Regions from separate parts of the Homo sapiens genome. Here region 2 is linked to region 1. The links come from fine-mapping of genetic effects on plasma protein levels. A gene starts in region 1. The other region holds a variant in brackets. All regions are shown on one strand. Distances are between the middles of the regions. Region 1 holds the start of KREMEN1 (kringle containing transmembrane protein 1). Region 2 overlaps KREMEN1 (kringle containing transmembrane protein 1).

The links. PIP is the chance, under the fine-mapping model, that this variant and not a neighbour inherited with it causes the effect. Sun 2018 read protein levels with aptamers (SomaScan).
Region 2: its variant is fine-mapped to the plasma level of the KREMEN1 protein (Sun 2018, PIP 0.95).

The regions. Positions count from the first base shown.
Region 1 is chr22:29,072,264-29,077,263 of GRCh38, forward strand. KREMEN1 (kringle containing transmembrane protein 1) reads left to right here and starts at 772. Exons shown (of 9, transcript NM_001039570.3): 1 at 772-964. The coding sequence starts at 868. It also overlaps a transcript of C22orf31 not described here. RefSeq lists a silencer at 461-790.
Region 2 is chr22:29,086,371-29,091,370 of GRCh38, forward strand. All of the region lies in intron 1 of KREMEN1 (kringle containing transmembrane protein 1), which reads left to right. Among named protein-coding and RNA genes, the nearest start is that of KREMEN1, 16 kb to the left of the region's middle. The variant T/TACACAC (reference allele first, on the strand shown) is at 1,936.

The DNA of each region.
Region 1 (5,000 bases):
TCTCCTGAGTAGCTGGGACCACTGAGTTATTTATTTTTTTCTTGTAGAGATGGGGTCTCGCTGTGTTGCCCAGGTTGGTCTCAGAATCCTGGGCTCAAGCGATTCTTCCGTCTCGGCCTCCCAAAGTGCTGGGATCACAGGAGTTGTTAGCCACCGCACTCGGCTGTAGGCATTCTTATTTAGTGCAAGCGCTCTGAGGAGTAGCAGCTATTATCACCTCCATTTAACAGATGAGGAAATTGAGGTAAGAGCTATTTTTCCTTTAAACCTGTCCAAGGTGTTACATGTGACCAAGTGGGATGTGAACTCTCCAAAGCATTCTTTTTTTAACCATTACGATGAGCTAAGCAAGGGAAAACAGTTTGCAAACTGCTGTTGTAATTATTACCGCTGTAGCTGAGCTCGCGCGTGGGTCACGACCTAAGTGAGGGTGGAGCAGGGGTCACTGGGAGCCCGGCCTATTTCAGCCCGGCCAAACCGCTTGGTGACTTGGAGGCCGGGCCGAGGCCCCGCCCCTCACCTGCTGATCCTACCCTTGGATGGGACAAACAGAGGGCCCTGCTGGGCCGGCCCAGGTGAGGCGAGAGATGGGCGGGGCCTGATGCGTGAGTGGCAGGAGCAGCGCGCGGCCGGGGCGGGGCGTGCGTGCGCAGTGGGCTCCGCCCCCCGGGCCTCTCCGCGGATCCGGGCGGGCCCCAGGCTGCAGGGGCGGTGGCGGCGCTGAGCTGGGCGGGCCGGGGCGGGGCGGCCGGGCGGCCGGGGCGGGGCTACACTCGGGCCCCGCGTCCTGCTCCCATGGCCGCCCCCGGCTCCCCGCGCTGCCCCCTTTACCCCGGGCCGCGCCCCGGGGCCCCGCACTGACGGCCCATGGCGCCGCCAGCCGCCCGCCTCGCCCTGCTCTCCGCCGCGGCGCTCACGCTGGCGGCCCGGCCCGCGCCTAGCCCCGGCCTCGGCCCCGGACCCGGTGAGTGTGAGCGACCCCCCGCCGCCCGCCCTGAGCGGAGCCCACTCGAGGGGCGACAAGGGCCGGCCGGCCTGAGAGCCCCCTCCCTCCCGCTTCAGGACCTTCCGGGCCCCTTCCCCTCGCCCCTAGGCGACGCCCCTCAGGCCGGGATGGTCCCTTCCTGGGACCCGGGCTACCCCCAGGCCCGTCATCGACGCCCCCGGGCCCGGTACTGTCCCCCGGCTGCAGGACCCGGTGCTCCTCAGCGACGCCCCTCAGCCCAGGAGGCCCTCTCCGCCTTGAGTCTTCCAAGACCCTCTGCGACGCCCCCCGGGCTGGGACATCTTCTCTGTCTCGGGATCTGGGACCCGCTGCCCGAGTCCCTCAGCGACCCCAACCAGGCCGGGACGCCCCCTCTCCCCGGTACCTCCTGGGATCCCGTCCCAAGTCCCCAGCGACTTCCCCCGGGCCGGGACGTCCTCTGCTCCCCGGTACCTCCTAGGATCCCGTCCCAAAATCCCCAGCGACTCCCCACGGGCCAGGAGGCCCCCTGCTCCCCGGTACCTCCTGGGATCCCGTCCCCAAGTCCCCAGCGACCCCTCCCGGGCCGGGACGACCCCTGCTCCCCAGTACCTCCTGGGATCCCGCCCCAAGTCCTTCATCGACGCACCTTGCACCGGGACGACTCCCCCGCTACAAGAGGCTATACGCCCCTCTCCGAGACCTCCAGCGACATCCCTCCCCTGGGCCAAGGTCCCCTCCCTGAGCCTCACTGCGACGCCCCCGCGTCCCCCAGTCCTCTCCTCCCGCCTACACCGGTGGAACCCGGCGCCTCCCCGCGCAGAGCAGAGCGGAGGCGGGAGGAGCCGGCGCTCAGCCCCTTTTCCCGAGTCCTCGGCTGCACCCGCTTGGCGGACATTATAACTTCTGCCTCGCGAGGAACGGGATGGACTTGTTCGCCCTGCTAGAGGCAGGTTAGGGTCCTGGGACGACCTTGTACCCAGACGGACGGGACGTGCCCTCTCTCTCCGCTGGGCCGCTTTGAACTTCCCTATGACTCAGGTGATGGCGCAGAAGGGGGAGAGAAAAAAGGAAGCAGTGATGGGAAACTTCTCCCCAACTGAGTTTAGGGTGCTCTTCCTGAGGGTGCAACGCCGAGCTCCGTGTTTTGGGTCAGCCCACACCTTAGACAGGTCACTCACTACCCAGGCCAAGGCCAAGGCCAGGTCTTCCCGAGGTGAGGCCCTGGACCAGGATGAAGCTTGGCTTTTGCTTAACTTCCACACGCAACCTTGTAGCCGAATCCTTTCTAAGTGGAAGAGAAGGCAAGAGGGCGTTGCATTTCTCTGCAGGCTGTTTGGGTGTTGAGCATAGGCCATTTGTGAAAGGGATGGGAAGAGTTTATTACCAGTCTGCAGGAGTAGGAAAACCCGCCTCTGGGTTCTCCACCCAAAGTCACAGACTGATGTTGGAAAGGATGGGATTTTGCTGGTGTAAGAAAACTCAGAGTTGCTTTGTTTACTCATTGGCTTGGATTAGCGAAAAAGCTAGGACTTGGTGTTGTCACTTACTGGGTGACTTTGGGCCATGCCTTCAGCTCTCTGAGCCTCAGTTTCCTCATCTGTAAAGACAGGATAACTTCTTTGCAGAGTGTTGTGAAGATTAAATGATATACTGTAGGTAACATACCCGCATATAGGAGGGAGTCAATAAACATATTTTAATAATACTTTTATAGGGCCTCACAGTTCATCGAGTGCTAGACACCTCATTTACCCTGGGAATGCTAAGAGCTTTCGGTCTGATTCATTTCTGTAAAAGGCTAAGCTTGGCTTTAAATTAGTAGAACTGGGGTCTCCAAGTGTTGTAAACCTGAGGCTCAGTAAGTGGTTTCTGAGTGATCACCGTCTTTTATGGGACTTCTACAGTATGATCACTTCTACTGTTGTGAGGAGTGAGGGACATTCCGAGAGCCAGGATATGTCAACATGACTGTAACCTGGTAACCCCTTAGCTCCACTTTGCTATCTGTGTGGTCAGGGTTTAATGTCCCCTACAAAGAGAGAGGTATGGGTGGAAATAGACTGGTTCCCCTTCTGGAAAGGGCAGAGCAGCAGCTCTGATTTGCATCAAGTGAGCCAACTCTCCTTAAGCTCGTTGGAAGCTAGTCTCTTCCCAGATATCTTTGCTTTTTTAAGGTCAAATGCAGCATCTCTTATCAAGTTTGCACCCCAAATTTTGGTGTACTTTTATTTAGGAGTCTGGGGTAGGGGCAAATAATCGTTGTGAAATAATTTGTGATAAGTGGCCCAAGTTCCCAACTCACTGAGCCTTGCCAGCTTGGTGCCTTACCGTCCTGATAACTCAGTGCTTTGCTTTTTTGACTTTTCCTGTCTAGTTGCAGAAGCAATTTTAGGGAGATACCCCATGGTCTTCACCAACACATCCTGTCTAGATCCTACTCACTAGCTTTTAAAATCCTTCCCAATAAAACACACACACATACACACACACACATACACACACACACTTTACTCTGAGGATATGCCAAACTTGCCATTTTATATTTTTTGATACTGTAATTTTCTCTAAAATTTTGTGGATGGAAAAAATTATTTCAATATTTATATTCTGCACAATTTTGTAATATTTAAATTACTGGTGGTTTGCATTTTTGAATGCTGACTTTATAAAAACAGTTAGCTCATTCCCCATCAATCCTACTTCTAATTACAATGTGTAGCCAACCCCAAATGATCTCCCTTCTTTTCATTCTTCCTCTAAGATTCTCTTCCTTCCTTCACAACTCATAAGAAGGAAAGTAGAAGGTAATGGAATCTAGACTTTCCTTCAAGGAGGAGTGCAACCAGGGCCATGTGGTCGAGAGGTTCTCTGTAGTAGGTCCCATCTGGAATTTATGGAATTTATGGTCTACTCACTTGAGTATTTTACTACCTTTAGGGTCTATTAGGTGCACATCAACAGAGCTTCTCCACTCAGGTTATGTTTGCTGTGAATACCTTTTATAAGTTTATAGACTGATGCTCATTCTCCTCTACCTCCTCATCTGGAATTTGCCCCACTAGCCAGTAGTGTGTTTGCCCTAAAACCTATGAGTTCAGTTAACAGCTAGAGCTTCATACTGTCTACCAATTCTTGGTTCTCTTGGGGACTTCATTAATGCTAATAGAATTACCTGTAAGCGACATGGGGGCTGAAGCAGTGAAGGAGTGAAGGGTGCATACCAGTTACTTGCATACTCTGAGTATTTTAAGAAACACCATTTCGACCTGCTATCAAAGACCTCTGATATTTTTGTGAAAATATACTTTAGTCCCTAGACAAACCATTTAAATCTTTGAGGCCGGGCGCGGTGGCTCACACCTGTAATCCCAGCATTTTGGGAGGTCAAGGCAGACGGATCACCTGAGGTCAGGAGTTCAAGGCCAGCCTGGCCAACATGGTGAAACCCCATCTCTACTAAAAATACAAAAAATTAGCCGGGCATGGTGGCACGTGCCTGTAATCCCAGCTACTTGGGAGGCTAAGGCAGGAGAATCGCTGGAACCCAGGAGGCAGAGGTAGCGGTGAGTTGAGATCACACCATTGCACTCCAGCCTGGGCAATAAGAGCAAAACTCTGTTTCAAAATAAACAAATAAATAAAAAGTATTTGAGATAGGCAATGAGTCCCTTTATAAATCTTAAAGCAAGAAAGCATTCCTTTTAGGCTCACTACTCATAAACAGAAAGTTGATGCACTTCTTGTATATCAATACAGATATTATTGATAAACTCATGGTTTAGCATAGTTAGACCAAAAGCAATAAATGAGTAAGATAAAATATATTGCTTTAAATAGCTTCACAATATACAGATTAGGGATTTTTGGTGATGGGGAATATACCATCCTTAGTTTAGAATTTTTGAGTCTGGAAATGTCAACTGATAATCTAGGTCAGGTGTGGGCAAGCATTTTTTGTAGAGGAAGACAGTAAATAATATGAGATTCATGGGCCTTATACTATCTGTGTTGCAATTATTCAACTCTGTAGGGC
Region 2 (5,000 bases), 14 kb after region 1:
GTGTGTACAGGGTTGTTGTTTTTTCCCTAAACTGTCCTCTCTCTATTCTAGATCTGATGACATTCCTCTATGTAATTGTAGAAATCACTGCTCTTGGAGAGCCATTTTTGAAGATGGGAGTGTGTCCTATCACAGCCTCAGTGGTGTTGGGTTGGAAAAGGCTGGGAACCCCTGCCTTCCCAGGGCCACATGCCCCTTTACTACAGGGTTTCACATAACTGAAATCAGCTTTCCCATAGTGCTTTTGAGTGTCTGAGGGCAAAGGGTAGTCTGCCCAGGGGCTTCAAAGTGGTGCAAGTTCCCACCGGGCACCAGTCCGTATTTGAAACCCAACAGGGCGATAGGTGTGCTATGTGAATATTTGACGGCACTGTCATGTTGCCCTCTCTCTATATATATCTTTTTTGAGATAGGGTCTCACTCCATCGCCCAGGCTGGAGTGCAGTGGCATGACCATGGCTCACTGCAGCTTTGACTTCCTGGGCTCCACCTCAGCCTCCCAAATAACTAGGATTACAAGCACACACCACCACACCCAGCAAATTTTTAATTTTAATTTTAATTTTAATTTTGTAGAGATGGAGGTCTCCCTATGTTGCCCAGGCTGGTCTTGAACTCCTGGGCTCAAGTGATCCTCTTGTCTTAGCCTCCCAAAGTTCTGGGATTACAGGCATGAGCCATACCCTCTAAATATTAAAAAAAGCATTTATACCTAAACCTTAGATTTCTATAATCTATCTACCTACCAAGTTTCATAGACTTTTTTAAAGAACGAAGGATATTCTCATTGGAATATGTTCTCTGCTGTCTTGCTTTAAGATGCTGTAATTGAATTTAATGTGAATTGATTCATGTTGATTTCAAGCCAGGCTAAAACCAGACAGATTCTTCCAACATAAGATCAGTAGAAGTGCTAAGCGGTCCCACAGAGAACAGAGACTTAACTTTGGTGGATTAAAAAAAAACAATGACTCTCATAAGCATCATATGTAGAGATCTAACTAGTAATTCTACCAGAAAACCAAGAATATAGAGAAAAATGTTGTATTTCTCAATAGTGTGTTTTTGGACAAATTAAGAATTACCTAGTTATAGAGTTTTATAGAGAGCATATTCTTCAGCTTTATTAAATCTTACCAAAGATTAGGATGTCTTTTAGATTAACTACTGTTTTCCTACCACTATCTTATACATGTCAAGTTTTTTTTTTTTTGACGGAATTTTACTCTTTGTTGCCCAGGCCAGAGTGCAATGGTGCGATCTTGGCTCACTGCAACCTCCGCCTCCCGGGTTTAAGTGATTCTCCTGCCTCAACCTCCCAAGTAGCTGGGATTACAGGAATGCACCAACATGCTCGGCTAATTTTGTATTTTTAGTAGAGATGGGGTTTCTCCATATTGATCAGGCTGGTCTCAAACTCCCGACCTCAGGTGATCCGCACACCTTGGCCTCCCAAAGTGCTGGGATTACAGGCATGAGCCACCACGCCCAGCCAAGTTTTAATTATTTTAAAAGAATACCTTGTTATAGTTTAAACATGAACTTTAAAACTGCAGAGCAGGTATTATACAACCTGGCAGAATTTTTCCTGGGACTCTATTAACTTGTGTTTTCCTCACTTATGATTAGTATAAATATTGAATTATGTGGTTTTAGTAGCATAAATAAATGAAGATGTGTTTCATCATATTTATAGCTGAAATTTTGATTAAGAAAAACCTATTTGCTCCTCTGTATCTTTTTCCCTTACCGCTTATCCATTGAACGCTAGGATTCAACACAGGATTCAAACCATATATATGTTCCATCTTGATGGTAGCCTAACTTTAAACAGAATTGTAGTAGGATGATGTGCCCACATACTCATGTTATCTTACCTTTTATAGCTAATTATTTTATGGACCAGAATAACGTGCGCACGCGTGCACGCGTGCA[T/TACACAC]ACACACACACACACACACACACACGCACACACATATTTTGAGATGGGGTTCCCGCTCTGTCACCCAGGGTATAGTGCCTTGGTGCGATCTTGGCTCACTGCAACCTCTGCCTCCCAGGCTCAAGCGATCCGCCTACCTCAGTCTCCTGAGTAGCTGTGACCACAAGCACACACCACCACGCTTGGCTAATTTTTTGTATTTTTGGTAGAGATGGGGTTTCGCCATGTTGCCCAGGCTGGTCTCGAACTCTTGATATCAAGTGATCTGCCCATCTCAGCCTCCCAAAGTGCTGGGATTACAGGCGTGGGCCACCGCACCTGGCCTCAGAATAACCTCAGTTATCATGATGCTTATAATATTTCTAAGCTTATATAAAGTTTGATTATTTTTATACCTTTATGATTATACAATAATAATTTTTGAATACCTACTATGTACCGAGTACTTTACTTGCACACGTTCCAATTCTTCCAACTGCCCTGAGCTGTAGATAATCAAATCTCTCATTTTGCAAGTCAAGAAACTGAGGCTCAAGGAGGTTAGGCAAGTGCTTGTAGCTTGTAAACTGAAAAGCTGAGGTCTGGCTCTAGAGCCCCTAACATACGCTTTCCATACTCTACCACATTGTTGCTAGAAGTTGTGTGATAAAGAAAAAAAAATTACTGAAAAAGTTTTCCTAGCTTTTCTCCTACCCCACAGGCTGTACTTTCTCAGTCATCATTGCCAAGTGTGGTATGTTGGAGGGCCCCAGGGCTCAGCCCCAGATGTTGGGGCTGATACACACAGTATCCTATTCTCTCTACACGTAAGTGCTGGGGACCATATTTCTAGCTTTAGCCTCAGCCTTTTTCCTCAACTCCAGACTCATGTAGCCATTTGCGTACTCTACATCTCCACTCAGTTTTCTGAAGATGTCAAGTTTAACCTATCCAAAACCAAACTCTTAATTCTACCCCAAAACACTCTGACCTTCCTGAGCCCTCCCTATTACAGTAAATGGTATCACTACTCAGCTGGTTGCTCAGGCCCCTTTGGTGTGCTGTGTGACCCATCTGTCTCTCAGACCCTGTATCCAAACCCCCAGCAAATACTTTTGCCACTACCTTCAAAATATATCTGGAATCGGTCCACTTCTCACCACCCCACAGCTGCCAGCCTAGTCCAGGCCATCCTTGTTTCTCGCCCATCCTTCTACAGTAACTACCTACTTTTCTCCCTGCCTAGGTCCTGCCTGTCAGTTGTTTTTCCTCCACCCAACAGCTAGACAATTCTATTAAAAGATAAGTCACAAAAATGAATAAATAAAGATAAGTCACATTATGTCATTCCCCTGCTCTAAACCCTCCAGTGGCTTCCCCTTACACTTAGAACAAAAGCCAAAATCTCATTTATCTAACCCTCAAGACCTTACACGTCCTGACCTTGCCTGCCCTTCCCTGCTCATTCTCCTGCTCCAGTCAGATTAGAGGAGCAGCTTTGTAGCTCCCCAAATCTGCCAAGCATATTGCCATTTGCAGGGGCTTTGCATTTGCTGGACCCTCTGCCAGTTACACACCTGCCGCCTCGTTCACTGGGTTTGCTTCCTCCCTTCATCCACATCTCTGCTCACTAGGCTTTCCCTGACCCACCCTAGGAGAGAACCCTCACCATTCCATCGTACTCCCTTTACTCTGCTTCATTCCTTCTAATAGCACTTATCACTATCTGATGTTCATTTTGATCAGTTTATTATAAACATGTAAGCTCCATGAATACAGGATATTTGTTCATCTCTGTAGCCCCAGTGCTGTGAACAGTGCCAGGCACATAGTATTGAATAAATATTTGCTGAACTAATTAATGAATAATTTCCTAGACATTAGATCTCTTGCTTTCACTCATTCTCTTTTCACTGAATACGTAAATAAACAGTTGGCTCTGTGTGTGTGTGTTTCTTACTGGTTTAAGCCGCTCCTTGCTTATTTAGCCAAAGCTTACATCAGTTTCGTAGCAGTAGAAAATAAGGGAGGCTGGGAGCTACATGATAGACCTTATGAACACAAAGAAGGAAACAGCAGACACTGGGGTCTACTTGAGGGTGGAGGGTGGGAGGAGGGAGATCAGCAGGAAGATAACTGTTGGGTACCTGGGTGATGAAATAATCTGTACAACACACCCCTGTGACATGAGTTTACCTGTGTAACAAACCTTCACATGTACCCCTGAACCCAAAATAAAAGTTAAAAAACTTAACATGATCACGATAGAAAACAGTGTGGAGGTTCCTCAAATGATTCAAAATAGAATGACCATATTCTAGCAATCTCAGTTCTAGGTATATATTCAAAGGAAATAAAATCACTGTTTTGAAGAAAAAAAATAAGGGAGGTAGGGTCCTATTTACCTAACATACACCCTAGTACTCTGATGAAATCAAGATGCGCTAGATGACTTTAAATGCAGAGCATTCGAGTTGGTTTCCCTTGCTTTTCTCTGTAATTGATATGTACTGGGCAAGTCTGGTCAAAAAACAATCACAGAATCTGATACACTGCCTCAGTTTCACCAGTGTAACTGAGAACAAGATTGGGTCTGAGAGGAACAGACCCAAGCAAAGAAGCCTGCACTTTCCCATTTCCACTCTCAGATGCCATCTCGTCTCCATGAGGACTGTCATGTGTGTGCATTTTATTTATTTATTTATTGAGACAGAGTTTCACTCTTGTTGCCCCAGCTGGAGTGCAAAGGCACGATCTCGGCTCACCACAACCTCCGCCTCCTGGGTTCAAGCGATTCTCCTGCCTCAGCTTCCCAAGTAGCTGGGATTACAGGCATGCACTACCACCCCCGGCTAATTTTGTATTTTTAGTAGAGACGGCGTTTCTCCATGTTGGCCAGGCTGGTCTCGAACTCCTGACCTCAGGTGATCCGCTCGCCTCGGCCTCCCAAAGTGCTGGGATTACAGGCTTGAGCCACTGTGCCCGGCCATGGATTCTTTTTATTACACATTCTGCTACATTCTTTTGTATTACAAACCAAGTCATCCGAGTCTCAGGAACCCCACCTGTCCTGCAGTTTGCTATGT